5 separate regions of the Homo sapiens genome follow, and all the other regions are linked to region 4. The links come from fine-mapping of genetic effects on plasma protein levels. A gene starts in region 4. Each other region holds a variant in brackets. All regions are shown on one strand. Distances are between the middles of the regions.

Region 1 (4,414 bases), 24 kb after region 4:
GGGGCACCAGGCAGGGAGAGACCCCCACCCAGGAGCAGGGAGGTCCTGCCCTGAGGCTCCATGTGGCCTGAGGGCCCATCGGACCTCTTTATACAAAGACCCAAACTGAAACTCTAGCTCACCCCACTGGCTTGAGGTTATACAGTTTCTAGGTGTTGAAACTGGGGCTGGAGCCTGTTCCTGCCCTTCTGGGTCACAGGGCTGCTTTGGGGACCAAGGAACCTCAGGCCCAAGGCACAAAGCACATACAGCGGGGGTCAGAGGGCCAGTTAGGCCACAGAGCCTTAGGCAGGGTGCCGGCCTGGGGTTGTGTGTCAAGAGGTGAATCTTGGCTGGAGTTCGCCAGGTGTGCTAACCGCGTGTCACCCCTGGGGCAGGTACAGCGAGGTTAATGCCATCAGCACCGCCTGCTCCAACGGAGTTCCAGAGTGTGAGGAGATGGTCTCTGGCCTTTTCAAGCAGTGGATGGAGAACCCCAATAATAACCCGTGAGTGTCTCCCCTGCGCCTCCTCTGCCAGTCTTCATCTGCCCCCAACAGCCCCGTCCTCAGCAGAACCCTGTCCCACCCTCCCCGCTGCTGTTCCACACCTGACCTCCCTACCCCACACCAGGATCCACCCCAACCTGCGGTCCACCGTCTACTGCAACGCTATCGCCCAGGGCGGGGAGGAGGAGTGGGACTTCGCCTGGGAGCAGTTCCGAAATGCCACACTGGTCAATGAGGCTGACAAGCTCCGGGCAGCCCTGGCCTGCAGCAAAGAGTTGTGGATCCTGAACAGGTGAGTCTTGGCGCAGGGTGGGACTGCGAGAGCCCTCTCCCCACCTGGAGAACCAGGCAGGCCTCCACACTCCTCGCCAGATCCTTCACGTGACCCCCACAGACCTGTTGAGGTGGAGGCAGTATTTCCAAAGTAACCGGTGCAGACTGGAAGCTTTAATAAGTGATAGAGACAAGATATGGACTCAGGTCTGGGTCCATGTCCTCTGTTCCTAGCTGCTGTGGCCTCTTAGCCTTTACCTGACAACAACTCGTCTTCCCTTCTGTCAAAGGCTCTGGTGTAGCTGGACCTGGGTCTTTTCAAACATCCAGCTGGGCACCCCCTCAAGCCCTTGGATGAGGGTCCCCACCTCCCACCATGTGCCTCATATGCCATTACCTGGATGCAGTAAAGAAGAGCCACCCTTGGGCAGGGTGTGGTGGCTCATACCTGTAATCCCAGCACTTTGGAAGACTGAGGTGGATGGATCACCTGAGGTCAGGAGTTCGAGACCAGCCTGGCCAACATGGAGAAACCCCGTCTCTACTAAAAATACTAAAAATACAAAAAAAAAAAAAAAA[T/A]AGGCATGGTGGCACATGCCTGTAATCCCAGCTACCCGGGAGGCTGAGGCAGGAGAATCACTTGAACCTGGCAGGCGAAGGTTACAGTAAGCCCAAATCGCTCCACTGCACTCCAGCCTGGGCGACAGAGTGAGACTCCGTCTCGAAAGAAAAGAAAAGAGAAAAGAAAAGAAAAGAAAAGAAGGGCCACCCTCAGTGTCAAAGACGGGAGTGACCACCCACCTGGTGCCAGGGCTTGGGGCGCTAGGACTCCTTCCTTCATTGATTCATTGTCAAATATTTCTATGTCAGGCATGACACTAGCTTAGCCAGTGACCCTGTGACCCTGCTTAGGTGACTCAGTTTTCCATCTATAGAGGGAAGAAGGACCAAGGGGTCCCTCAGCCCCTGGCAGGCCGAGGGGATGTTGAGAGGATGCAGGCATAGGTGATGTGCGTGGGACAGTCCAAGTTCTCTCCTGAGTCACCTGAATTAGCAGTAGCTGAGACAGCATCTGGCCCTCTTAGGTACCTGAGCTACACCCTGAACCCGGACTTAATCCGGAAGCAGGACGCCACCTCTACCATCATCAGCATTACCAACAACGTCATTGGGCAAGGTCTGGTCTGGGACTTTGTCCAGAGCAACTGGAAGAAGCTTTTTAACGAGTGAGTCTGTGGAATGGGTGTCAGGGACAGCGAGCGCCGAGGCTGGGGCCCCGGGGGGTGGCCTGTGCGGGTAAGACACGCCGGGGGCACTAACCAGAAGTGGACAAAAATCAGCCAAGCCTGGGGGCTAGGGTGGGGCAGGAATGGAAAGACAAGCTGGGGTATGGGCCGTCCCTTTTCCCATTTGGAAGGAAAACGTGGCGTGTGGGCGTATTCTCCAGAAGAGAGGGGAGTGAGGAACTCGGCAGTCAGACCTGTGTTCAAGCTGTGACTCCCCCACATCCTAGTGGGGTCTCCCAGGGCGTGTCATTTCATCTCCTCTATAATCATGGCTCCCTACCCAGTAGGTGTGAGGATGAGCCTCCTTAGTTCCCGGCCTCCCTCACAGTTCACCTCTCTCCCTCCCTGCAGTTATGGTGGTGGCTCGTTCTCCTTCTCCAACCTCATCCAGGCAGTGACACGACGATTCTCCACCGAGTATGAGCTGCAGCAGGTAAGAAGTCATTCCCCAGACCTGGGCTCTGCCTACTTCCTTCCCAGGCCAAAGGGGCACTCCATTCTTCTCCCACGTGGCCCTGAGGGAGCACAGGCTCCACGCCGCCAGGCCTTCCTCATTTACAGAGGAAGCCGAGTAGCCAGACTTTGGAAATGTTGATAATTCAATTTAAAAAATTCATCTTGGGATTTTTGTATAGGCACAAAAGGGAAGAGTGGTATAATGAACCTCCATGTACCCGTTACCCAGGTTCAACAATTATCAACATTTTGCCAGTACTTTTTCCGGGCGGGCAATTTTTAAGCAAATCACTGATCATGTAATTTTACCTCTAAATAATTTAGTCATATGAAAAATAAACGCATTCTTTTATTTTTTTTATTTTTTATTTTTTTTTTGAGATGGAGTCTTGCTCTGTCACCCAGGCTGGAGTGCAGTGGTGCGATCTGGGCTCACTGCAAGCTCCGCCTCCCGGGTTCACGTCATTCTCCTGCCTCAGCTTCCTGAGTAGCTGGGACTACAAGTGCCCGCCACCGCGCCTGGCTAATTTTTTTGTATTTTTAGTAGAGATGGGGTTTCACCATGGTCTCGATCTCCTGACCTCATGATCTGCCTGCCTCGGCCTCCCAAAGTGCTGGGATTACAGGCGTGAGCCACGGCGTCCAGCTTTTTTTTTTTTTTGAGACTGAGTCTCGCTCTGTCATGCAGGCTGGAGTGGTGCAGTGGTATGATCTCGGCTCACTGCAACCTCTGCCTCTGGGGTTCAATCAATTCTCCTGCCTCAGCTTCCCGAGTAGCTGGGATTACAGGCATGCGCCCCCACACCCGGCTAATTTTTGTATTTTTAGTAGAGACGAGGTTTCACCATGTTGGCCAGGCTGGTCTCGAACTCCTGACCTCAAGTGATCCACCCACCTCGGTCTCCCAAAGTGCTGAGATTACAGGTGTGAGCCACTGCGCCCAGCAATAAAGGGATTCTTAAAACATAATCACACTGTCCTTAGCAAACCCAGGAAAATGATTATCTTCTTACTATCATATACCCAAGGCATATTCAAATTTTCTAAGTTGTTTATAAAAGGTCTTTTTACAATTGATATATATGCTTGAATTAGAAGCTTGACAAAGTCAACTTGGATTAAGTTAGTTTGTCTTTTTTAAAAATTGAGATATAATTTGCTGGGCGTGGTGGCTCACACCTGTAGTCCCAGCACTTTAGGAGGCTAAGGTGGGTGGATCACCTGAGGTCGGGAGTTCCAGACCAGCGTGGCCAACATGGTGAAACCCTGTCTCTACTAAAAATACAAAAATTAGCTGGGTGTGGTGGGGGGTGCCTGTAGTCCCAGCTACTCGGGAGGCTGTGGCAGAATAATTGCCTGAATCCAGGAGGCGGAGGTTGCAGTGAACCAAGATTGTGCCACTGCACTCCAGCTTGGGCGACAGAGTGAGACTCTGTCTCAAAAAAAAAAAATTGATATATAATTCATGGACCATCAAACTCACCATTTTAAGTGGTTTTCAGTAAACTAACAAGGTAGGGTGGGTGGGGTGCTTCATGCCTGTAATCCCAGCACTTTGGGAGGCCAACGCAGGAGGATCCCTTGAACCCAGGAGTTTGAGACCAGCCTGGGCAATATCATAAGATCTCATCTCTAAATAAATAAATAAATAAATAAATAAATAAATAAATAAGCTGGGCATGGTGGTGCATACCTGTAGTCCTAGCTACTCAGGAGACTGAGGTGAGAGGATCGCTTGAACCAGGAAGGCAGAGGTTGCAGTGAGCGGAGGTGGTGCCACCGCATTCCAGCCTGGGTGACAGAGCAAGACCCTGTCTCAAAAAACCAAAACCAAACCAAACCAAACAAACAAACAGAAAAAAACCATGTGGTACAACCATCACTACTGTCTAATTCCAGAACATTTTTATT
Region 2 (6,272 bases), 30 kb after region 4:
GGTCATTTGGTTACTCTGTGTTTAACTTTTTGAGAAACTGACAAAATGTTTTCCAAAGCAACTGTACCATTGTCCATTCCTATTAGCAGTGTATCACATGAGGGTTCTAATTGCTCCATGTCTACACTTATCTCTCTTTCCCTCTTTTTTTAGTATAGTCATCTAGTGGGTAGGAAGTGGTATCATTATGGTTTTCAGTTATATCTCCCTAATGAGTAATGAATGACATGATGTTGAATATTTCATGTGCTTATTGGCCTTATACACATTTGTGTATCTTTGGAGAAATGGGTAAAACTGACTATTTTTCTTTTCGAGAGAGGGTCTTACTATGTTGCCTAGGTTGTCCTTAAATTCCTGGGCTCAAGCAACCCTCCCACTTCAGCCTTCTGAGTAGCTTGGATTACAGGCATGTGCCACTGTGCCCAGTCTTTTGCTATTTTAAAATTGGGTTGTCTTTTTATTGTAAGAGTTCTTTATATATTCTGAATATTAGACCCTTAATCAGAGATAGGGTTTGCAAGTATTTCTCCCATTCTATGGACTGTCTTTTCACTCACTTAATAGGTCTTTTGATACCCAAAATTTTAAATCTTGATGAAATCCTATTTATCTGTTTTTTTTCCCTTTGGTTGCTTATACTTTATGTATCATATCTAAGAAAGTATTGTCTAACCCAAGGTCATGAAGATTTATACCTATTTTTTTATTTCAAAAAAATTTTTCAAACCCACAAAAGACCTGACGATGTTTTTTCTAAGAGTTTTATTGGCCAGGCATGGCGGCTCACGCCTGTAATCCCAGCACTTTGGGAGGCCAAGGCAGGTGGATCATGAGGTCAGGAGTTCAAGACCAGCCTGGCCAAGATGGTGAAACCCCGTCCCTACTAAAAAATACGAAAATTAGCTGGATGCAGTGGCGGGCGCCTGTAATCCCAGCTACTCGGGAGGCTGAGGCAGGAGAATTGCTTGAACCCGGGAGGCGGAGTTTGCAGTGAGCTGAGATCGCACCACTGCACTCTAGCCTGGATGACAGAGCAAGACTCTGCCTCAAAAAAAAAAAAAAAAAAAAAAAGAGTTTTATTATGTTTTCACTCAAACGTAGGCATTTGATCTATTTTGACTTAATATTTGTATATGATATGAGGTTGGGGTCCAACTTCATTCCTTTTGCATGTGGATATCCGGTTGTCCAAGTCCCATTTGTTGAAAAGACTGTTCTTCTCCCACTGAATGGTCTTGGCAACCTAGTTGAAAATCAATTGACGGTAAATATAAGGGTTTGTTTTTGGATTCTCAATTCTATTTCATTCATCTATATTTGCATCCTTATGCCTGTACCATACTGTCCTGATTACTATAGTTTTGTAGTGAGTTTTAAAATTGGGAAGTGTGAGTCCTCCAATTTGCTTTTTTTTTTTTTGAGAAAGGGTCTCACTCTGTCACCCAGGCTGGAGTACAGTGGTGAGATCACAGCTCACTGCAGCCTCAACTTCCCAGGCTCAGGTGATCCCCCCACCTCAACCTCCTGAGTAGTTGGGACTATAGGCACATGCCACCATGCCCGGCTAATGTTCTGTATTTTTCTGCAGAGACAGGGTTTCACCATCTTGCCCAGGCTGGCCAACTGTGTTCTTTTTCAATATTGTTTTGGCTATTCTGGGTCCCTTGCAATTTCTTATGCATTTTAGGATCACTGATCAATTTCCGCAAAAAAAAAAAAAAAAAAGTAGTTAAAATTTTGATGGGATTGAATCTCTAGAGCAATATGGGGACTATTGCCATCTTAATGATGCTAAATCTTCCAGTCCATGGACACAGATTTATTTGGGTCTTTTTTCTTTTTACTTAGGTGTTCTTTAATTTCTTTCAAAAATGTTTTGTAGTTTTTGGCATTCCAGTCTTGCACTTATTTTGTCAAATTTATTCCTAAATATTTTATTCTTGTTGATGCTATCGTAAATGGAATTGTTTTCTTAATTTCATTTTCAGGTTTTTCATTGCTAATGTATGGGAATACAATTGATATTTGTGTATTGCTCTTGTATCCTGCAACCTTGCAGAAATCATTAGTTCTAATAGATTTTTTAATGGATTCCTTAAAATTTTTATGTATGCAAACATGTCATACACATAGTTTTACTTCTTCCTTTCTGGATTCCTTTCATTTCATTCTCTTGGCTGATTGCCTGGCTAGAACCTCCAGGACTGATAACTCTTCTAATTTGTAGGAGTATTTTTTTTTTAAACCCATTTATTTACTGAAGCAACTGGATCATTTGTGGTATAGAAATTTCCACATTTTAGATTTGGCTGGTTGCTTCATTAGCCCCTCTCTACTCTCTTGATTGGATTGATATTATAATAAAATATTACACCTGAAGGCCAGAATCTCCCTGAGCCAGGTTTTGCCTGGGATTGTCATTTTGCAACCTCTGTGTTCACAAGGACTTTGCCCGGGAGCAAGGTGGACGTCCTGCCTATCCCTGGAACAGGGTGTGGTCCCATCCATGGGGACTCTAAAGTGGGAGTGGAAAGCCAGAGGCCTGAGAGAGCTCCTCCTCAAGGCTGTTAGGGACCCAGCCGGACTGAGAATCTTTTGTTTTTCTGGCAGCTGGAGCAGTTCAAGAAGGACAACGAGGAAACAGGCTTCGGCTCAGGCACCCGGGCCCTGGAGCAAGCCCTGGAGAAGACGAAAGCCAACATCAAGTGGGTGAAGGAGAACAAGGAGGTGGTGCTCCAGTGGTTCACAGAAAACAGCAAATAGTCCCCAGCCCTTGAAGTCACCCGGCCCCCATGCAAGGTGCCCACATGTGTCCATCCCAGCGGCTGGTGCAGGGCCTCCATTCCTGGAGCCCGAGGCACCAGTGTCCTCCCCTCAAGGACAAAGTCTCCAGCCCACGTTCTCTCTGCCTGTGAGCCAGTCTAGTTCCTGATGACCCAGGCTGCCTGAGCACCTCCCAGCCCCTGCCCCTCATGCCAACCCCGCCCTAGGCCTGGCATGGCACCTGTCGCCCAGTGCCCTGGGGCTGATCTCAGGG[A/G]AGCCCAGCTCCAGGGCCAGATGAGCAGAAGCTCTCGATGGACAATGAACGGCCTTGCTGGGGGCCGCCCTGTACCCTCTTTCACCTTTCCCTAAAGACCCTAAATCTGAGGAATCAACAGGGCAGCAGATCTGTATATTTTTTTCTAAGAGAAAATGTAAATAAAGGATTTCTAGATGAGTGAGACTCATTACTAAACTAAAGCAGGAGTGGGTCAATACAGCAGCTGGGGAGGCCGGGTGGGGGAAGCTGGGTGCATGCGGAGCACCGTGGAGTCTGGGACCCCAGAGCACAGGAGGGGAGACGTGCCCAGCCTGCCGGCCCTTCCTGCAGGTGCCCTGCGCCTGTGCCTCCATGTCTGCCTGCAGGACTCCGGGCTCCTTTTCATGCTCTATTGACTGAGCTAGCTGGGTGGTTTGCAGGGCTCCTTTTATTCCTATTCTGATGGCAGCTGGAGCTGCTGGGTGGTGGGGAGCTGTGGACCCAGTGCTCCCGCAGTGAGTGGTGAGAGGGGCCCTGGCAGAGCGCAGGGAGTGCTCTCCAGGAAGCACCCTCCTTAACATGAGGCAAGGGTGCAGGGTGCTGGCCGTGCCCCTCTTCCTGCTCCACGGGAACACCTGGGATACCTGGGACAATGCGGGACAGGTCTGTGCAGTGAAGGCAGCAAGCACAGGGTCCCATACCTGGTGCCACCCTTCACTGGCCAAGGGCACGCCCCACCGTCTTCCGTGGTGGAAGGGTGGAGTGGGGTGTGGGTACCAATGCATAAAGAGGTTGTTTTCTAGAGCAGCACACAGGGATGGGCTGGGCTGAGGAGCAGGCAAACCATGGGGTGGGGACAGCTTTGCCAGGCTCATAAAGTGGGGGCTGTGCCCTCCACATCGCCTGGGGCAGAAGATGGTCAGGGCCAACTCTGAGAAGGCCTGGGACCAGCGCAGCTCCACGCACACATTGGCCCTGGTGAGCATTTCTTGACAAATGGAGCCCCACTGTGGCAGGCTCCCCTCAGCCTCTGCCCCGCAAGGCCCAGTTGAACATCCAAGGCTGAGAGGAGGGGGAGAAGGCGGGAACAGCCACAGGGGTCCTTAGGAGTCACCTCCAACAGACACCCACAGCCAGCTCCGCAGGCTGGAATCATGGAGTCCAGCAGGTCTGGTTTCAGTTTCTTAGACAAGGGACCCACATGCCCAAGCCTAGGTCTCATCTGCACAACGAGGCAGTGTCAGAGCTGTTGGGCTGGTGTGTGGATTGAAGGAGATACATGTACTTAGCAAATGGCCTGACGCATAAGGAGAGCTGGGTTTTATTATCACCCTTGGCCCTCTTCCCCCTTGTGAGAAGCAGGCAGGCCTGGGGCCAGGAAGGCCCCCCATCCCCCACCACCATCTGCACATCAAAGAGTAGGGTGAGCTAAGGGCGGAGGCCAGCCCGGATGATGGTGCTCTGTCCCTCCACCAGCCAGGAGGCTCCCTGGGCCGCCCCAGATTAAGCTCCGCCAGCCACTTTGGGCCAACCCTTCCTGTCGCCAGTACCCAGCGGCCGTGGCTGGCACTTGACCTTCTGGGGACCAGCTGTGGGAGGGGCCGGCCTCACCATCTTGAGTTTCTAATGGGCTCTAGGATCCCTGGACATTGCAGAGGAGAGAGCTGGCCTGCCAGGGAGAAGAGTTTATGCACATTATTTCATTTAGTTCTAAACCGTACCATGAGATAAGGAATATCTTTATGTCAGCTTTACAGATAAGGAAACTGCAGGGCAAGGAGATGAAGTCACAACTCAGTAGAACTGAACTGGAACCACTGTCTGGCTTTACTCCCTGCACAGAAGTGGAAGCCAGTTCTCCATCTGGAGCTGGGGTGGAGTGCGTGACGTCTATACTGCCATGCTTGTGCCGTTACTGGAAAGAGGTCTCGATCCTTGGAGCCCATGCAAGAAAGAATTCAGGGCAAGTCCATAAAATGAAAGCAAGTTATTAAGAAAGGAAAGGAATCAAAGAATGGCTACTACACAGGCAGGGCAGCAGCATGGGCTGCTCAACTGAGTAAACTTAAGAGCTATTTCTTGATTTTTTTTTTCTTTTTTTTTTGAGACGGAGTTTCATTCTTGTTGCCCAGGCTGGAGTGCAATGGTGCGATCTTGGCTCACCACAACCTCCGCCTCCTGGGTTCAAGCGATTCTCCTGCCTCAGCTTCCCAAGTAGCTGGGATTACAGGCATGCACCACCATGCCCGGCTAATTTTGTATTTTTATTAGAGATGGGGTTTCTCGACCCCAGGAGATCCGCCCACCTCAGCCTCTCAAAGTGCTGGGATCATAGGCGTGAGCCACCGCGCCCAGCCTTATTTCTTGATTATATGCTAAACAAGGGGTGGATTATTCATGAGTTTTTTGGGAAAGAAGTGGGGATTTCCCAGAACTGAGGGTTTCTCCCTTTTTTAGACCATACAGGGTAACTTCTGCATATTGCTGTGGCATTTGTGAACGGTCATACGCTGGTGGGAGTGTCTGTTAGCAGCTAAGGTATTATAATCAGCGCATAATGAGCAGTGAGGATGACCAAAGGTCACTTTTGTCACCATCTTGGTTTTGGCGGGTTTTGGCTGGTTTCTTTACTGCATGCTGTTTTATCAGCAAGGTCTTTGTGACCTGTATCTTATGCCGATCTCCTGTCTCATCCTGTGACTAAGAATGCCTAACCTCCTGGGAATGCAGCCCAGCAGGTCTCAGCCTCATTTTGCCTAGCCCCTATTCAAGATGGAATCGCTCTGGTTCAAACACCTCTGACGATGCCACCTGGCAGTGTACAATGCTGGCACTCATCAGGACCTCCATGGCTGATCCTGGAATGCAGTGAGGATACACAGAGCCAGAGGAATGCCTGCAGAGCCTTGGTCAAGGTCAAAGAGCAGGAACCAACTAGAACTCTGGCGGCTGATTCCCTGCCCAGCGCTCTTGCCTGCCCTCAGCACTCAAGTCCAGCAGGAATGGAAGGTGCTGAGGCTCTGTAGGCAGCAGCCTTGGTGGCTCCTCTGACTCAGCCTTTCGAGACTGTGGAGTCAGCATAGCTAACGCAATCTTTCATTTTCTTTTTCCTTTTTTTGTTTTGTTTTTTTTTTTTTTTGGAGACAGAGTCTCACTCTATCGCCTAGGCTTGCAGTGGCACGATCTCGCTCACCGCAACCTCCACCTCCTGGGCTCAAGCGATTTTCCTGCCTCAGCCTCTTGAGTAGCT
Region 3 (6,272 bases), 41 kb before region 4:
CGCCACTGCACACCAGCCTGGGCGACAGAGCAGGACTCCATCTCAAAAAAAAAAAAGAAAGAAAGAAAAGGAAGGAAGGAAGGAAGGAAGGAAAGGAAGGAAAGAAGGAAGGAAGGAAAGGAAGGAAAAAGGAAGGAAGGAAAGGAAGGAAGGAAGAAAAAGAAAAGAAAAAAGGAAAGAAAGAAAAGAAAAAAAGGAAGGAAGGAGGGAAAAAGAAAGAAAGAAGGAAAGAAAGAAAGAGAAAGGAAGCAAGGAGAGAGGGAAGGAAGGAAGAAAGGAAGGAAGGAAGGACACTTGGGCTGGTTGTGGAGGCTCACGACGATAATCCCCAGCACTTTGGGAGGCTGAGGCGAGAGGATCACTTGAGCCCAGGAGTTTGAGAACAGCCTGAGCAATAAGTGAGACCCCATCTCTTTAAGTAAAAAAGAAAAAAAAAAAGAAAAAAACAAAAGCAAGGATTGTTCCAGACTATACTGAATATCTGCTGCCATATACACACTCGCTTTCCTTACTTGAACTTTGGATTGCCTCAGTGCACAATCTCATTGATTACCTGCTGCTTCAAGTTTGGTGTGTTAGTCATTCCTTATTACTGGTTAGTAGAATAACAGTGTACACAAAACAGCACAATTTGACCTTTAGAGATATTCATTTGATATGCAGCCGTTTTCAGTAAAACCTAGTGTTTGTCAAGGTTGTAGTCAGTAAACAAAGCTTATTACCCATGGTATTACTTGGATATGTTGCAGATAAAACGAATTGTATTTTGCTTTGGTTGCTGATTTATAGGCACCCTGAAAGGCTGGAATTGAGATTCAATTTTATTGTTCTTGCTATTATTCCTTATATTGCAGAAGAGGATTAGCCTACTCTAAGATAAGAAGTAGAGTTTCTCTTTCTTTCTTTCTTTCTTTCTTTCTTTCTTTCTTTCTCTCTCTCTCTCTCTCTCTCTCTCTCTCTCTTTCTTTCTTTCTTTCTTTCTTTCTTTCTTTCTTTCTTTTTCTTTCTTTTTTTGAGATGGAGTTTCGCTCTTGTTGCCCAGGTTGGAGTGCAATGACGTGATCTCGGCTCACTGCAACCTCCACCTCCTGGGTTCAAGCAATTCTCCTGCATCAGCCTCCTGCCTAGCTGGGATTATAGGCGTGCGCCACCACACCCGGCTAGTTTTGTATTTTTTTTTAGTAGAGACGGAGTTTCTCTATGTTGATCAGGCTGGTCTCAAACTCCCAACCTCAGGTGATCCGCCTGTCTCAGCCTCCCAAAGTGCTGGGATTGCAGGTGTGAGCCACCACACCCAGCAAAGCAGAATCTCTTGATTCCTAACTAAGAACCCTTTTCCAGGCTTGATTTTTGTATCAATCAAGGTAGGCTAGGTAATGCATTACTCCAAAATCCCAATGGCTTATGAGAGCAAGGTTTATTTTTTCACTCGTGCTATGTGGCCATTGTGGTGTGTCTGCTGACTGTAGTTCCTCTGAGGTCCAGGCTGATGGAAATCTCCTCAACATATGCTTCTACCTGGGCATGTGTGTGTTCCGGCTCTTGAAGTGACACATCCTCGTACACTCACATTTCAGTGATCAAAATCAGTCACATGCTCCCACCCAAGGGATGGGGAAATGATCCTATTATGTGCCCAAGAGGGAGGAGAACCTGAACTAGTTGAATATTACCAATGATGACCATGGTTTTTTCATGGATTTTCTTAGAGGAAAAGTTAATGTTTGATTTTTATTATCACTTTGTAGAAGGGAAGCTAGAAATTTTAGTAACAGAAAAATAGAGGAGTGCTCTAATAAGAAGAAAACATGGTTGAATCTTAGGAAAGGTATCCCACATGGCAGCTTTTCAGTTTCTCTGATTATTGGGCATTTATATCTTCTATACTTCCCAAATGAATTTAAGATGACTTAAAATAAAATTTCTTAACAGAATAAATGGTTTTTATATGTGGGAGGCGAGTGCCTCCCTCCTTAGAGGCTTTCTGCAAATCATTTGTCTTTACCTTGGCTCTCTGACCTTGATGAAGTACTGATGTCTGAGAGTGTTTTTGTCTTTTCTCTGATTACCAAACAACAATCATTTATTAAGCATTCATTAGGAAAAAGACACTGCGCTAAATATAGAGATACAAAGATATAAAACTCAAATTTTCTACCTGTAAGAAGCTCATAAACTAGGCACGGTGGCTCACACCTGTAATCCCAGCACTTTGGGAGGCCGAGGTGGATGGATCACTTGAGGTCAGGAGTTCAAGACCAGCCTGACCAACATGTTGAAACCCTGTCTCTCCTCCACCGTGCCCAGCCCCAGCCCAGTTTTTACTTTTGATGAAGCTTTCTCTAAACTTCGGTATTGTAGTTCTCCAAACTGTTTGTCTTCTTGCTCATGCTCTCAAGTTTTTAATTCTAACTGTTTCTAGTAGATTGTAAACGCCTTTGGAATAGTGTCAGTATGTAATACTTTGTTGGTTATCCAAACAATACAGGACAGTCAGAGTTGATTAGTTGATGTGAAATAGATATGTGTCCCAATTTTGTGGGTTTCTTTTTCTTTTCTTTTCTTTTCTTTTTTTTTTTTTTTAAGACAGAGTCTTACTCTGTTGCCCAGGCTGGAGTGCAGTGGCATGATCTTGGCTCACTGTAACCTCTGCCTCCCGGGTTTAAGCAATTCTCATGCCTCAGCCTCCTGAGTAGCTGGGACTACAGGTGCGCACCACCACGCCCAGCGAATATTTTTTTTTTTTTTTTTTTTGAGATGGAGTCTCACTCTGTCATCCAGGCTGGAGTGCAGTGGTGTGATCTTGGCTCACTGCAATCTCTGCCTCCTGGATTCAAGCAATTCTCCTGCCTCAGCCTTCCGAGTAGCTGGGATTACAGGTGCGCACCACCATGCCTGGCTAATTTTTTGTATTTTTTTAGTAGAGACGGGGTTGCACCATCTTGGCCAGGCTAGTCTTGAACTTCTGACCTCATGCTCTGTCCACCTCGGCCTCCCAAAGTGCTGGGATTACAGGCGTGAGCCACCACGCCCAGCCCTAATTTTTGTATTTTTTAGTAGAGACAGGGTTTCGCCATGTTGGCCAACCTGGTCTCAAATTCCTGACCTCGAGTGATCCATCCTCCTCAGCCTCCCAAAGTGCTAGGATTACAGGCGTGAGCCACTGCACCCAGCCAAGGCCCATTTTTTAAAACCAAATTCTAATTAGACCTTGCCTTTGAAGGTTATGACTTGTGCATACTGGCTAGTTTCGGGGTGGGCTCACTTTTCACTTTGCCTTTGCTCCCTTGGGAGATAACCTCTGGGTGCACTCAGGAGGAACTAGGAACCCTGTGTTCCTCAAGTGGGATTCTGCATGAATTGCCTTTGTGGGCTTCTGACTCTACCAGATTCTAACTGTGTAATTTATGCAACCCTCTTAAAGACCTCTTTGTGCCTCAGTTTTCTTCAGTTGTAAAACAGGGATGATATCACATTTCATTGATTCTTTTTTTTTTTTTTTTTTTT[TTTA/A]AAGGACATATCATATTTATTCATACACATGCTGGAATTATTGGTGCAGACATTTAAATACATTTTCTTTGAGAAAGTCCTTTTTTTTTTTTTTTCTGATGGAGTTTCCCTCTTGTTGCCCAGGCTGGAGTGCAATGGTGCAATCTCAGCTCACAACAACCTCTGCCTCCTGGGTTCAAGCAATTCTCCTGCCTCAGCCTCCCAAGTAGCTGGGATTACAGGCATGCACCACCACGCCCAGCTAATTTTTTTTATTTTTAGTAGAGACGGGGTTTCTCCGTGTTGGTCAGGCTGGTCTTGAACTCCTGATCTCAGGTGATCTGCCCGCCTTGGCCTGCCACAGTGCTGGGATTACAGTCGTGAGCCACCACAGCTGGCCTGGGAAAGTCCATTCTTTTTTTTTTTTTTTAATTTATTCTTTTATTGATAATTCTTGGGTGTTTCTCACAGAGGGGGATTTGGCAGGGTCATGGGACAATAGTGGAGGGAAGGTCAGCAGATAAACAAGTGAACAAAGGTCTCTGGTTTTCCTAGGCAGAGGACCCTGTGGCCTTCCGCAGTGTTTGTGTCCCTGATTACTTGAGATTAGGGATTGGTGATGACTCTTAACGCGCATGCTGCCTTCAAGCATCTGTTTAACAAAGCACATCTTGCACCGCCCTTAATCCATTTAACCCTGAGTGGACACAGCACATGTTTCAGAGAGCACAGGGTTGGGGGTAAGGTCACAGATCAACAGGATCCCAAGGCAGAGGAATTTTTCTTAGTGCAGAACAAAATGAAAAGTCTCCCATGTCTACTTCTTTCTACACAGACACGGCAACCATCCGATTTCTCAATCTTTTCCCCACCTTTCCCGCCTTTCTGTTCCACAAAGCCGTCATTGTCATCCTGGCCCGTTCTCAATGAGCTGTTGGGCACACCTCCCAGACGGGGTGGTGGCCGGGCAGAGGGGCTCCTCACTTCCCAGTAGGGGCGGCCGGGCAGAGGTGCCCCTCACCTCCCGGACGGGGCGGCTGGCCGGGCAGGGGGGCCAACCCCCCCCCCCCCCACCTCCCTCCCGGACGGGGCGGCTGGCCGGGCGGGGGGCCGACCCCCCCACCTCCCTCCCGGACGGGGCGGCTGGCCGGGCGGGGGGCCGACCCCCCCACCTCCCTCCCGGACGGGGCGGCTGGCCGGGCGGGGGGCCGACCCCCCCACCTCCCTCCCGGACGGGGCGGCTGGCCGGGCGGGGGGCCGACCCCCCCACCTCCCTCCCGGACGGGGCGGCTGGCCGGGCAGAGGGGCTCCTCACTTCCCAGTAGGGGCGGCCGGGCAGAGGCGCCCCTCACCTCCCGGACAGGGCGGCTGGCTGGGCGGGGGTGCTGACCCCCCCCACCTCCCTCCCGGACGGGGCGGCTGGCCGGGCGGGGGGCTGACCCCCCCCACCTCCCTCCCGGACGGGGCGGCTGGCCGGGCAGAGGGGCTCCTCACTTCCCAGTAGGGGCGGCTGGGCAGAGGCGCCCCTCACCTCCCGGACGGGGCGGCTGGCCGGGCGGAGGGCTGACCCCCCCACCTCCCTCCCGGACGGGGCGGCTGGCCAGGCGGGGGGCTGACCCCCCTACCTCCCTCCCGGACGGGGCGGCTGGCCGGGTGGGGGGGCTGACCCCCCCATCTCCCTCCCGGACGGGGTGGCTGGCCGGGCTGAGGGTCTCCTCACTTCCCAGTAGGGCGGCCGGGCAGAGGCGCCCCTCACCTCCCGGACGGGGCGGCTGGCCGGGCGGGGGGCTGACCCCCCCACCTCCCTCCCGGACGGCATGGCTGGCCAGGCGGGGGGCTGACCCCCCCACCTCCCTCCCGGATGGCACGGCTGGCCGGGCGGGGGGGCTGACCCCCCACCTCCCTCCCGGATGGGGCGGCTGGCCGGGCGGGGGGCTGACCCCCCCCCCACGTCCCTCCCGGACGGGGTGGCTGCCGGGCGGAGACGCTCCTCACTTCCCAGATGGGGTGGCTGCCGGGCGGAGAGGCTCCTCACTTCTCAGACGGGGCAGCTGCCGGGCGGAGGGGCTCCTCACTTCTCAGACGGGGTGGTTGCCAGGCAGAGGGTCTCCTCACTTCTCAGACGGGGCGGCCGGGCAGAGACGCTCCTCACCTCCCAGACGGGGTCTCGGCCGGGCAGAGGCGCTCCTCACATCCCAGATGGGGCAGCGGGGCAGAGGCGCTCCCCACATCTCAGACGATGGGCGGCCGGGCAGAGACGCTCCTCACTTCCTAGATGTGATGGCGGCTGGGAAGAGGCGCTCCTCACTTCCTAGATGGGATGGCGGCCGGGCGGAGACGCTCCTCACTTTCCAGACTGGGCAGCCAGGCAGAGGGGCTCCTCACATCCCAGACGATGGGCGGCCAGGCAGAGACACTCCTCACTTCCCAGACGGGGTGGCAGCCCTCATTGATTCTTTAGACTCACTTTTTGGGTACCATTTATAATTTTAACATCTCAAATCAAGATTTTTCTTATAATCAATGGTATGTCATTTTTCTTTTGTAGTAGCACATAAAAATAGTATGTTTTACAATCAGTGAAGTCTTAGATTTGATATAATACAGTAATATCCACCATTCAATTATTTGAGGATCGGAATTAGTGAATAATTGCTTAGTTCAATAAATGGTGAATTTGTCTTTATTTTTACTTTTTTCCTACTAGTCTCTCTGCCTCCTATATTGTGCCTTAAGACTATCCTTTACACACCTTCCTAATGATATATTTAAAAATGTATTTT
Region 4 (6,272 bases):
ATAGCCATATGCATTCCATTGCAGGGCATACAATAATCATTCATTTATCCCATCTCTATTGGTGGACATTTAGGTTGTCTCCAGCTATTAGATTGGTGCAAAAGTCATTGTGGTTTTGGCTCAATGTTGCAGCGATGCAGTGGAAAGCCTTGTGTATTCCTTTCACTTACGTGTGAGCATTATCTGTAGGATAAATTTCTGGAAGTGCCAAGTCAAACAGGACATGTGTTTATATGTTTGATAAATACTGCCCAAATATTCTCTTTTGAGGTCGAGTCAGTCTACACACCAACCAGCAATGCAGGGGGTTGCCTGTTTTCCTCCCACCCTTGCGAATAGTGTGTTACCAAACTTTTTTTTTTTTTTTTGAGACAGGGACTCACTCTATCGCTCTGGCTGGAGTGCAGTGACACGATCATGGCTCACTGCAGCCTTGACTTTTCAGGCTCAAGCAATCCTCCCACCTCATTCTTCCAAGTAGCTGGGACTACAGGCACGTGCCACCACGCCTGGCTAATTTTTTTTTTTTGGTAGAGACAGGGTTTTGCCACGTGGCCCAGGCTGGTCTCGAACACCTGGTTTTAAGTGATTCTCCTGCCTCAGCCTCCCAAAGTGCTGGAATTACAGACATGAGCCACTGTGCCTGACCTACCAAACTGCTTTTTATCTTTGCTGATCTGGTAAGTGAAGAATAGTATCTTTTGTAGTTATAATTTTCATTTTCTTAATAAGTGAGTTATTGAACATCTTTTTACATGTTTATGAGCCCATGAATTTTCTTTCTGCAGGAGCAAGCACTGTCTCTTCATCTTTTTTTTCACAGGGGGTGGACAGAGTCTCTCTCTGTTACCCAGGCTGGAGTGTAGTGGCGCAATCTCGGCTCACTGCAACCTCCACCTCCCGGGTTCAAGCGATTCTCCTGCCTCAACCTCCCCAGTAGCTGGGATTACAGGCACCCACCACCATGCCCACCCAATTTTTGTATTTTTAGTAGAGACAGGGTTTCACTGCATTGGCCAGGCTGGTCTCGAACTCCTGACCTCGTAATCTGCCTGCCTTGGCCTCCCAAAGTGCTGGGATTACAAGCATGAGCCACCACGCCCAGCCCACTTAGGCTATTTCTGATTTTCCAGTATTATAAGTAATACTGCAGTGAAAAGCCTTGCATATAAATATTCTATTTCCTTAGGCTAAATTTATTTATTTTTTTGAGACAGTCTTGCTCTGTAGTCGAGGCTGGAGTGCAGTCATGTGATCTCAGCTCACTGAAGCCTCTGCCTCCCAGGTTCAAGCGATTCTCGTGCCTCAGCCTCCCAAGTAGGTGGGACCACAGGCATGCGCCACCACACCTGGCTGATTTTTGTGTTTTAGTACAGACACAGTTTCACCAGGTTGCCCAGGCTGGCCTTGAATTCCCGACCTCAAGTGATCCACCTGCCTTACAGGCATGAGCCACCACGCCCAGCCTCTTCAGGCTAAATTTCTGAAAGTGATCTTCATTCCTAACCCCAAACTGCCCTCCAGAAAGCTGGGTTGCACTTCTGCCACAGCAGGATCTTTACTCCTCTTAAAATCTCCGCGGAGCCTGGGTGGGAGAGGCAGAGCTCCGGGGGGAAGATTCTCTCCTGGCCTGATGTAGTGTTTTCCTTGGCTTGTCAGACATGGAGGAGATTATGCCAGATATGATAGTGGAGAGAGTCAGACATGCATGAGACTGGAGAGAGAAAAAAAACAAAATAGCCTCTGAGGTCTCACTCACAGCCTACTTACTCTTACTTTACACACAATTCTATATTCCGATATGTTTGTGACCTGGTTTTTAAGAGTACAGAGCAAATTAGGAAGGAGAAGCAAGGCTGCTACCTAGAGGTACCCTGGTCCTCCATGAAGTTTCCAAAAGAAGAGCAAGTGCAAGTAAAATAATAAAACACAGCCAGTCACAAAGCCATCAATTTGGACCATGCAGTGCAAGGCTTTAACTGTCCCAAGGATTCCAATCATGGATAAGGAAGAGCTTAAATTTGATTATAAATCTGAAAGTCTGGAAGTCAGCTTGAATATTGTGGTAGACATAATCATATCCTCCTCCTCAAAAGATGCCCTGGTTCTAATGCCCAGAATCTGTGAATATGTTATGCTACCCCACGAAGGGAAATTACAGTTGCAGGTGGAATTCAAGTTGCCAATCCATTGATTTAAAATAGAAAGATTACCCTGGATTATCTGGGTAGGCCCGATGTAATCACAAAGATGCTCACCAGTGGAAGCAAGAGGCAGAACAGTTGGTGTCAGAGTGACAGATTGTGAGAGACTGGTGGGCCACTGCTGGCTTTGAAGATGGATGGGGCCACCAGCCAAGGAATGTGGGCAGCTTCTAGAAGCCAGAAAAGCCAAAGAAACAGGTTCCCTTCCAGCCTCAAGAAAGCTGTATCCCTCAACCCCCTTGCTTTTAGTCCAGCGAGACCCATTTTGGACTTCTGATTTTACAAAACTTGTAAGATAGTAAATTAGTGTTGTTTTATGTTTGTGTTACGGCAGCCACAGGGAACCAATACAAATATTATCTGGTACCGCCCATTAAAGCTGCTCAGAGACAGGGAGCCCCACCCTGGCGGGGCTCCGGTGGCTGCACAACCTCTGCAAGCAGGATCAAGATGAGAGGCGCAGGCCAGGTGTGGTGGCTCACTCCTGTAATCTCAGCACTTTGGGAGGCCAAGGCGGGCGGATCACTTGAGGTCAGGAGTTCGAGACGAGCCTTACATGGTGAAACCCTGTCTCTACTAAAACTCCAAAAATTAACCAGGCGTGGTGGCGTGCACCTGTAGTCCCAGCTACTCGGGAGGCTGAGGCAGGAGAATCGCTTGAACCCAGGAGGAGGAAGTTGCAGTGAGCGGAGAAAGTGCCACTGCACTCCAGCGTGAGCGACAGAGCGAGACTCTGTCTCAAAAACAAATAAAGGAAAAAGAAAAAAATGAGAAGCGCGTGTTCCCGACTCCGGTGCTTTTTCGCAAGGTCGTGCTACTGCGCCTTCTGAACTACGAGTCCCAGGTACCAAGAAAGTTGAATTGCGTGCTGTGGCGGGTCCGTTATCTGCACCACCCGTCTGCACGGGATGCGCTGGCTTCCTGCCCCGGATGCACAAGGCTCCCTGCGGGACACTCAGGGCGAGGCTCTGAGCCCCTCCCCCGCGGCAGATGCCGTCCAGATGTGGCCGGCGGGTCCCGCGGGCTGCGGCGACAGGGACCCCGTCGGGGGCAGCAGGAGCCCTGGTGCATCCCAGGCCCCGGGGGGAAGGCCGGGCCGTCGGAGGAGCGGAGGAGCCCTGGGGGGCTCCCGGGAAGCCGCGGGCGGACGGGGGAGGAGCCCGGGCGGAGCTGCGGGCGGGCGGCCCGCTAGGGGTGAATCGGGTGGAGTAGTGGTCGGGTCCGGTTACTTCCCTTTAAAAAGACGGGAAAGGAGGAGTCCAGTGCTGGAGGGGCAGGGACGGCGGCGGCGCAGCTCGGAACCCGCCAGGGTCCAGGGTCCAGGTTCCAGCGCCCGGCGGCCCAGGCAAGTGGGGCGGGAGGGCGGGGGCTGCGGGCGCGGGTAGGGGTCGTGGGGCAGTTGGGTGCGCGGGAACCGAGGGAGCTGCAGACCCAGCGCTTGGCGCGTGCGGAGCTGGACTTCTGCGGCCGCGACGCCCCTCTTCCCAGATGGGTAAACTGAGGGCCAGGGAAAGCGAAGAATTCTTTTGGCCGAGCTCCCACTACGATCTCGCGGTCAAGTGGGTCCCCAGCGGGCCTCGCAGGGGTCGGAGGGGCTCCCATCTGGGGAGGGGGCCCCAGGGTGGGCGAGGGCGACGGGAGCCTGGGGAGGACGGACGGGGAGGGCGGCGGAGCGGAGCTAAGCTGCGGCGGGTGGACCCGGCTCGGCCGCGGCCACTCTGTCCCTGGTGGGTGGGGCGCGGCCGAAGGCAAAGGGCGAACCCGGCCCGCCTGTGGGGTCTCTGGCCAACACTGGGCTCAGAGGCCCTTTCTTTAACCTTAGATCTCGCTCCTCGGTCTAAAGCCTCCGCCGCAGCTCTCAGTGAAGAGGAAGGGGAACTCTAGGTGCTCAACGCCCGCGTTACAGTCGCGTTCTCCCTCGCTCCTACAACCCGGCCAAGATGCCGGGGCATGGATGGGGACCGAGGTTTGGGGGTTGTGGAGCCTATTCCACGCCCTCCCTGGTGAGCAACTGAGACAGATCCAGGGCCCCATTGCAATCCACTCTTGGTCTGGGAAAAGGTCCCCTAAACAGGGCCAATGGGATCCTTTCCCCAAATGACTCCAGAACGCACCCCCCCCCCCCAGCAGTGCGGTGGGCAGGGACGGCCCAGGTGGGCTATGTCCTGGGGTTTTGTGACTGGATCCCCACTCCTCCCCCACCTCAGCCCCTGGACTGCAACCCACCAGGCCGTGTTCGGGGGTGGTCAGAGCCCTGGTCTCAGCCAGACCTGAGGTCTGATGTGGCTTCATCCCTGAGTCTCTAAACGCCCTGGCCTTACTGGGCCTCAGTTAATTCACCTGTGAAAGGGGAGGCTTGGACCAGAGGGCCCCTCAGGGTATGTGTTTTGTGGAGGGGAGGTGGGCGTGTGGGGTAGGGGTGACCAGGAGGAAGTGGGGACAGCCTCTGTCCCACAGGAAGGCTGGCTAGCCCCAGTGGGTATGGGGGAGCTGGGCAGGGAAGAGGGTGGACTCCCCTCTCCCTGTGGGAGGGTGTGCTGGGCCCATGAGGCCCTCATCCACTCTCAGCCACCTTCCTGTGGAGCCCTAGCCTCGAAGGCCACACTATGAGTGCAAGGAGGCCACCCACAGCGCTGCTCCCGCTTCACAGGTGGGGAAACCGGCCCAGTGTCTTGAGGCAGCCCAGCCGCCTGCCCTGTGCTTCCCCCAGAGCCTTCTGGGGAATGAGACCTTCGTTACACGCTGGCGCTCCTTACACCCCTACAGCCTTTAAGCTAAGGCCTCCAGCCCCATCGCTGTAAGAATTGTATGCTAGGCATTCTGAGGACATAGATGGGGGTCCCCATGTCGGAAGGAGCCAAGGTGTTGGAACTGGGTCCAGTTCCTGGGCTGGCTCTGGTGGGAGATCTGGAACCCTATGCTGGGGCTCCTGGACAGCCCTGGAGGCATGGCATGGACAGTGTGTCAGCCGCACACCGAGGCCCTGGGGTGTCCTTATTCACATAGGCTGGCAGCCATCTATCCCTAGCCCGGGCTTCACCCCGGGTGCCTGTCACTCCTGGCCCTACAGTGGTCCCAGTCACACCTTGGAGGCAAGATGTGGGTCCTCCACAGGCCTGTGTCTGGAAGCAGCCCCCAGCACTCCCTGGCTAACAAGTTCTACTTCTGAGAACTACCCCCAGCTCCCAGCCCTGGTCTGGCCAAATGGGTGCGTGTCTTCTCCTGTGGTCTTCAACTCCCCTTGGCACGGCCACAGTAGATGTGAGGGGCTGTATGGGAGGACATTTTTAGGAGGCATATGTAGTTAAGCTGTGGAACCTGCTGCTAACTAGCTGTGTGGCCTTGGGCAAATCACTTAACCTTTCTGTGCCTCAGTGTCCTCATTTGCCAAATGGGGGTGATTATCCTGGTAGGGCACATAGTAGGTGCTCAGTTTCACCTACCATGTGTCTCACCAGGATAATCACCCCCCATTTGGCAGACAGGAGTTGCCAGGCAGGATCTGTGGCCCCACACAAACCCTATGTGTACTTCCCCCACCCACAAATGCCTCTGCTCCTTCCTCCTGTGTGCCCTGCATTGGGCTGAAGAGGCTGATGAGAGGCAACTTCCCATTGGGGCCTTCTGAGGTTCTTGCAGGAGGGGCAATGTCCAAGGCTCCCAGAGGAAGCACCCTGGGGTGATGCAGCTATGGGCGGAGGCCTCAGAAGCCTGGGAGAAAGCCAGGGGCCTGCGGGGACAGAGTGTGCCCTGGCCCAGGCCCAGCCTCGTCCCTACCCTTCTCGCTCACTGCTCCCTCAGAGCAGACAATGAGCCCCAGGTTGTCCCTGAGCTCCCAGTCTCATAGTTCACAGTCAGGGACACTGAGTGGGAGTGGGTGGGGCCTACCCAAGGACCCAGTGGTCGGGGATGGAGCATGGATAACACAGCAGCTCACCCGGCCACGGGTGCTCAGCTCTCCCGGCCACAGCCCCTCCCAGGCTCCTGGAGTCTTCATATTAGAGTAGAAAGCCTCTTGCACTTCACATCTGAGACCAAGGAGCCTCTCCCCACCCACAAGTGTGGGTG
Region 5 (6,272 bases), 13 kb after region 4:
GGCCCATCTCTCCTTCACGTGGGCTGGCCCCGGCTTGAGGGGTCTTCCCGTTCTCTTCATCCCTGTGCCAGTTTCTGAATTGTTAGGCCAGGGTTGGAATCCCACCTCTGAGTGATTTCAGGCAAGTGTCTTGTTCTCTGGTTCTCCATTTCTGCACCTGAAAAATGAAAACAATGGTTTCTCTTCATGAAGGGAGTTCCTGACCCACCGGTTACCAGACAGACGGTGGCTATGATGATTGTTATTCTCCAAAGGCCCTTCTCTAGGACCCACAGCCTCCAGACCCCAGTAGCGTTCCCCTCTGCTGACCAGGCCTCTAGGTTTAGCTTGATTGGCCTCCAGCCCTGGCCCATCAGGGATCCCCCCAGCCCACTGGGCCCTGGGACCCAGCCCACCTGCCCCAGGATCAAACAGGAGCCCCTGGTCTGCTTCTTCCTCACACCTTGCAGATCCGGATCTGGGCCCGGCCCAGTGCCATTGCGGCGGGCCACGGCGATTATGCCCTGAACGTGACGGGCCCCATCCTTAACTTCTTTGCTGGTCATTATGACACACCCTACCCACTCCCAAAATCAGGTGAGTGGGGGTCCTTGAGGAGGGAGGCAGTGGATGGAGCTCCACTCCCGGAGTTCATCCTGCCAATGGCATCGCCTCCCCAGACCAGATTGGCCTGCCAGACTTCAACGCCGGCGCCATGGAGAACTGGGGACTGGTGACCTACCGGGAGAACTCCCTGCTGTTCGACCCCCTGTCCTCCTCCAGCAGCAACAAGGAGCGGGTGGTCACTGTGATTGCTCATGAGCTGGCCCACCAGGTAGACCCCCATCTCGGGGAGTGCGGAGAAGGAAACAGGGGCTCCGAGAGGAGACGGCGCAAGTCCAGGCTCTGCCCCGGGCTGCTGAGAAGGGAGGAGGGTGCCGCCTGGCAGGGCAGCAGGAAGGGGTCACGATGGTGTTGAAATCCCCACTGTGCCTGGCAGATGGCCAGCCCTGGGGAGGGTAGTTCTGGGGATTCTCAGTGCCCAGCCTGGGCGTGGCTTGCCCAGCTGACCCCTCCCCCCACAGTGGTTCGGGAACCTGGTGACCATAGAGTGGTGGAATGACCTGTGGCTGAACGAGGGCTTCGCCTCCTACGTGGAGTACCTGGGTGCTGACTATGCGGAGCCCACCTGGAACTTGGTAAGCCAGCTGCCCAGGGGTCTGGTGCGGGGGGCATGGAGGGAGACCTGGGCCACCGCTACCAGGCCAGTCTCCTGATGGCCCTGGGGAATTTGCAGAAAGACCTCATGGTGCTGAATGATGTGTACCGCGTGATGGCAGTGGATGCACTGGCCTCCTCCCACCCGCTGTCCACACCCGCCTCGGAGATCAACACGCCGGCCCAGATCAGTGAGCTGTTTGACGCCATCTCCTACAGCAAGGTGCAGCCCGCTCCTCGTGGGGCACGGGGAAGGAGGTGGGGACTTGGCCTGGAGGGGCCTCACTGAAGGCAGGGTCTGGGGGCACAGGGTCCTGGTGGCTCTGCACAGCCTTCTGAGCGCCCCCTCACCCCCACCCCAGGGCGCCTCAGTCCTCAGGATGCTCTCCAGCTTCCTGTCCGAGGACGTATTCAAGCAGGGCCTGGCGGTGAGTACTGCACCCTGGGCCAGCCATGAGGGTGGGTCTCCTTCTGCCCCTCGCCCTTGACCCGGGCCTCTGCCCACCACAGAGGGGGAGCCTGGGGGGCTCCAGCTGTGCTCTCACTGTGCCCCGTCTTTCCACAGTCCTACCTCCACACCTTTGCCTACCAGAACACCATCTACCTGAACCTGTGGGACCACCTGCAGGAGGTCAGTAGCAGCCAGCCCCTCCACAGCCATCCTGTTGGGGTCTTGAGATGCTGAAGGTACCTGGGGGCAGCACATGCGTAAGAGAATGGGTCCAGCTCCGCGGCTGACCAGCCCTGCAGGGTGGATGGAGCCTCTGTTGCTCCTCCCTATAGTGGAAGCCGGGATGGCTCCTTGCAAGAGGTGTCTGAGTGAGGCTGTGGTTGAGGTCCTGGCCAGCAGCTGACCTCAGGCTACAGCGGGCTTCTTGATGGGAGCTGTAGAGCCCCTTCCTGGTGGTGAGGAAACTGCCCTCATGGTTCCCGCCTCTGCCTGGAACTCTGGAGCCTGACATTCAACCTTCTCCCCACTCCTGGCTGCCCTGTGCCCCCCGCTGGCGCCACGGGCATGTCTCTGCACACAGCTCCACCACCCTCAGCAGGAACTCTGCCCTCTGCCCCTGCCCCGGCTCGAGTTCCTCTCCATCAGACCCCGCACAGCCCCTGTTTGTAGGGCAGATCCCCAGACTGCCACACCCTCCTGCCTTCCCCCAGAGGCCGCCGCTCCTCTCCCTCCCCCAGGGTTGGAGTCCACCTCCTCTCCATCCTGCCCCCATCATTTCCGCTGACATCATTTCCCTGACAGCTGCCCCCTACCCCTTCCCTGCAGCTCTGCCCAATGCTAGCGTCTTAAGCCAGAGGACAGACATGTCCTCTCCTCACCGACAGCCCCTCCAGAGTTCCGAGCCTCAAATTCCCGTCCAGCTTCTACCCCACTGTTGCTGCTGCACTTCCAGTCCAGGCCTGTCTCACCAGGGAAGCGAGACCCAGGATCTTGTCACAGAGTCACAGCTGAGGTCCGGGTCCCTGCTGGGCAATTTCCAACCCCCTAGACCCCAAGATGCTGCTGACAAAATGACACTGTCATTGCCTGGGTCTCCCCCACTACCTTCCTTGCCCTGCCCCAACTTCCCCTTTGCGTTCCCTCCTAAGCCAAGCTCTCCTCCCTCTCACTCCTCTTTCCTGAGACCCTCGGCCGGCAGCCCCCAGCTGGTTCCTCCCCACATGCTCTTCTGCCCTCTGTGTGGCCCCGTTCTTAGGTGATTCCTTTCTTCAGTTATTAACAAATGGGGTTGGCTTTCTGTTGTGATGACAAAGG[C/T]AAGGCAGGTGCATGAGCAAAGATCCAAGAAGACAAGAAGACAACAACAGTGCCCCTGAGTCCCGCCCCACACCCCAGTCCGAGTGCACTTCCCTCATGCGACCCCCAGGGCCCCGTCCCCCACCCCTGCCTGTGACACCTGAACACTGGCTTTCTCTCATCTCTGTCTCCTCTTTCTTGTCCTCCTCCCAGTGTTGTTCAGGAAGAGCCATGGGCATCCTGGGCACCCCCTCCCTGACATACACACCTCAGGGTGGACCACAGAATGGAGGGCCTCATAGATTTGCTGGGAAGTTCTCCAGCTCGTCCAGCACTGAGCAGCCGAGGAGAGGCAGAGCTGGACGGTACCCTGGCTCCCGGCTCCCAGCCCAGTGCCCTTCCCAGGCCTCCCATACAAGTGGCCCCCCGGGGTCGAGGCGAGAATCTGCAGGAGATGCCCTGGATGGCAGGGACTGGAGGGTCCCACTGATGGCCACGCCCTCTCGCTCCACCCACAGGCTGTGAACAACCGGTCCATCCAACTCCCCACCACCGTGCGGGACATCATGAACCGCTGGACCCTGCAGATGGGCTTCCCGGTCATCACGGTGGATACCAGCACGGGGACCCTTTCCCAGGAGCACTTCCTCCTTGACCCCGATTCCAATGTTACCCGCCCCTCAGAATTCAAGTGAGCAGATGGGGTCACTGAGGCATGGTCAGGTGGGTGGGGTAGAGGGCAGTTACTAAGGGACCATAGTAGGACTGGCCTCCTGTGGTCCCAGCCCCAGCCACTGTAGACAGACCCTCCCTCCAGAGCCAGGAGTTCAGGGGCACTCGGTGCCAGAGCTGGGCAGAAGCTGGGAGCCTGGGCAGCTGCTCCTCACTGGCAGTGACCACACCGCCATCTCTCACCACCTCTGGATCTTTAATTGCAGCTACGTGTGGATTGTGCCCATCACATCCATCAGAGATGGCAGACAGCAGCAGGACTACTGGCTGATAGATGTAAGAGGTAATCCAGCCCTGCCTTATGGGCAGCAGCCCCCACCCCATACTCCTAGCTCCTGGCCCATGTTCTGAGGGCTGTGATGGGCCATTCCATTCAACAAATGGACTTGACTTCTTTGGTTCCAATCTCCACTTTGCTGCTGCTTCGCTGTGTGACTCTGGGCAAGTTACCATCCCGCTCTGGTCTCTAGTTCCTCTTCTATAAAATGAGGCTAAGAGCAATACTCCATTAGTTATGTGAGGATTAAAGGAGAGAATCCTAGGCCAGGCATGGTGGCTCATGCCTGTAATCCCAGCACTTTGGGAGGCCGAGGCGACCTGGGGTCAGGAGTTCGAGACCAGCCTGACAAACATGGAGAAACCCCATTTCTACTAAAAATACAAAATTAGCCAGGTGTGGTGGTGCATGCCTGTAATCCCAGCTACTCTGGAGGCTGGGGCAGGAGAATTGCTTGAACCTGGGAGGCAGAGGTTGCAGTGAGCCAAGATCGCACCATTGCACTCCAGCCTGGGCAACAAGAGCGAAACTCTGTCTCAAAAAAAAAAAAAAAAAAAAAAGGAGAGAATCCACATAAAATGCTTAAAGTAGTGCCTGGCACATGTTATGAGCAGCCCTACTCAGCAAGGCACTGAAGAAGCGAAGGGCATGACAAGTCATCCTTTGCCTTGGCCAAGGCTACAGATGAAGGAAGGCAAGAAGTTGGAGGCATTCTAGTGCTGTGCTGAGTGCTTTCAGAGTGTATGGTTGGGGCTAGTGAGGTATGGGGACATGGAGCAGGGAATAAGGGAGATTCAAGTTCATGGAGAGGTCAGGGAGGGCTTCCCGGAGGAGGTGAGCTGAGTCTTAGAGGAAGAGTAGGAATCAGACAGGCTAATGTGGCAGAGAAAAGAATTCCAGGCAAAGGGAATAGCAAGTGCCAGGGATAGAGGTAGGAGAGAGTGTGGGGACTGAGTGTAGCTAGGGCAGAGGTGTGCCCAAGAGATAAAGCTGGTCCCCAAGGGCCCCAGGGGCTGCAGGAGACAGTGGATGGGGCAGGTGGGAAATGAGCAACCTATTGGCCCTGACCTCTGGCTGCTGAAACAAAGTATGAGAGGAGTGAGGGAGGAGGGGGACCCACAGGGAGGAAGGGGCACTAAGCCCCAGAAAGAGACAGCAGCACTGGGGGTCTGGGTGAATGGGAGGGGAAGGGAGAGGAGGAGCTGCCTGTGGTTCCCACTTGGGTGACAGGTGTGATGGAGTGTGGAGGAGGGCAAGGAGGAGGAACAGCCTGGATTGCTGAGTGTGAGCGGCCTGGCAGCTGGCCTGGCCGTGCAGAGCCTAGGGAGGCAGGGCAGGTTCTGAGGTTTGGGGTGGCATGTCATCTTCATGGGTTGATGGTCTGTGAAGCCACTGGCAGCCCAGTTCCTCATCCCTTCCTTCCCCACCCTTAGCGTCTCCCCAGCAGCTTGAGGGTGAGGTGGTGCCAGGCTGCGGGGGCAGCTGCTCTTGCAAGAGGTCCAGGGGTCAGCCCATGGCCTCTGAGCAGCCCTGCCCAGGTCTCGTCCCTCTCCACAGCCCAGAACGATCTCTTCAGCACATCAGGCAATGAGTGGGTCCTGCTGAACCTCAATGTGACGGGCTATTACCGGGTGAACTACGACGAAGAGAACTGGAGGAAGATTCAGACTCAGCTGCAGAGAGACCACTCGGTGAGTGTCTGCCACCCCTCGCCCTGCCCCCTGCCCCAGGACAGGCACCAGACTGCAAGGCCTGCCACCCACAGCCAACCCATGGTCACATGCTGTGCTTCGCATTCTAGGCCATCCCTGTCATCAATCGGGCACAGATCATTAATGACGCCTTCAACCTGGCCAGGTGAGTGCTCCGCTGCCTGGCTCAGCTGCAGAAGCTCGTGACTTCAGCAAGTCTGAGTCCACAATGAGGGCCCCTGCTCCTCCTGCTGCCCTTCCCATATGCCACGTGCTGTGCCCTGAGCTCCTGTGCTCCCTGGACGTCCCTCCCTGGGTCCCCACACACCCATTTCACAGATGAAGAATGTGACACCTTGCCCGAAGTCACACAGTAGTTCATGACAGCCAGACAGAGGCTTGTCCAACTCCAAAGCCATCCTCTACTCCACAGCACCAAGCTTTTTGTTTTTGTTTTTGTTTGTTTGTTTGTTTGTTTGTTTGTTTTGAGACGGAGTCTCGCTCTGTTGCCCAGGTTGGAGTACAGTGGCGCGATCTCAGCTCACTGCAGCCTCCACCTCCCAGGTTCAAGCGATTCTCTGCCTCAGCCTCCCGAGTTGCTGGGATTACAGGTGTGCACCACCATGCCCAG

Direction of the effects. Alleles are on the strand shown, and positions count from the first base shown. The strength of an association depends on the size of the effect and on how common the allele is.
For the plasma level of the protein whose gene starts at base 3,469 in region 4, allele A in region 1 goes with a lower level than allele T (moderate association).
For the plasma level of the protein whose gene starts at base 3,469 in region 4, allele A in region 2 goes with a lower level than allele G (strong association).
As copies of A replace TTTA in region 3, the plasma level of the protein whose gene starts at base 3,469 in region 4 goes down (moderate association).
In carriers of allele T in region 5, the plasma level of the protein whose gene starts at base 3,469 in region 4 tends to be lower than with C alone (moderate association).

Evidence for each region. PIP is the chance, under the fine-mapping model, that this variant and not a neighbour inherited with it causes the effect. The UK Biobank Pharma Proteomics Project read protein levels with antibody pairs (Olink). The fine-mapping took linkage between variants from a reference panel, not from the people measured, so its PIPs are less certain.
Region 1: its variant is fine-mapped to the plasma level of the ANPEP protein (UK Biobank, PIP 0.99).
Region 2: its variant is fine-mapped to the plasma level of the ANPEP protein (UK Biobank, PIP above 0.99).
Region 3: its variant is fine-mapped to the plasma level of the ANPEP protein (UK Biobank, PIP above 0.99).
Region 5: its variant is fine-mapped to the plasma level of the ANPEP protein (UK Biobank, PIP 0.99).

What each region holds. Positions count from the first base shown.
Region 1 is chr15:89,788,526-89,792,939 of GRCh38, reverse strand. ANPEP (alanyl aminopeptidase, membrane) reads left to right here. Exons shown (of 21, transcript NM_001150.3): 17 at 378-488; 18 at 613-780; 19 at 1,847-1,987; 20 at 2,399-2,480. Among named protein-coding and RNA genes, the nearest start is that of MESP2, 14 kb to the right of the region's middle. RefSeq lists an enhancer at 153-653. The variant T/A (reference allele first, on the strand shown) is at 1,341.
Region 2 is chr15:89,781,843-89,788,114 of GRCh38, reverse strand. ANPEP (alanyl aminopeptidase, membrane) reads left to right here. Exons shown (of 21, transcript NM_001150.3): 21 at 2,614-3,220. The coding sequence ends at 2,766. Among named protein-coding and RNA genes, the nearest start is that of MESP2, 8.6 kb to the right of the region's middle. RefSeq lists enhancers at 3,066-3,728, 3,729-4,390, 4,391-5,053, 6,118-6,177. The variant A/G (reference allele first, on the strand shown) is at 3,041.
Region 3 is chr15:89,853,184-89,859,455 of GRCh38, reverse strand. The region is part of intron 8 of ARPIN-AP3S2 (ARPIN-AP3S2 readthrough); the gene reads left to right. The region is part of intron 4 of AP3S2 (adaptor related protein complex 3 subunit sigma 2); the gene reads left to right. Among named protein-coding and RNA genes, the nearest start is that of MIR5094, 5.6 kb to the right of the region's middle. The variant TTTA/A (reference allele first, on the strand shown) is at 3,508.
Region 4 is chr15:89,812,049-89,818,320 of GRCh38, reverse strand. ANPEP (alanyl aminopeptidase, membrane) reads left to right here and starts at 3,469. Exons shown (of 21, transcript NM_001150.3): 1 at 3,469-3,549. RefSeq lists cis regulatory regions at 3,086-3,088, 3,106-3,135, 3,134-3,137, 3,045-3,173, 3,425-3,430, promoters at 3,045-3,533, 2,379-3,533 and an enhancer at 3,401-3,900.
Region 5 is chr15:89,798,795-89,805,066 of GRCh38, reverse strand. ANPEP (alanyl aminopeptidase, membrane) reads left to right here. Exons shown (of 21, transcript NM_001150.3): 5 at 450-576; 6 at 660-814; 7 at 1,065-1,178; 8 at 1,277-1,420; 9 at 1,560-1,625; 10 at 1,763-1,828; 11 at 3,460-3,632; 12 at 3,880-3,956; 13 at 5,508-5,641; 14 at 5,752-5,807. Among named protein-coding and RNA genes, the nearest start is that of ANPEP, 13 kb to the left of the region's middle. RefSeq lists an enhancer at 1-1,129. The variant C/T (reference allele first, on the strand shown) is at 2,963.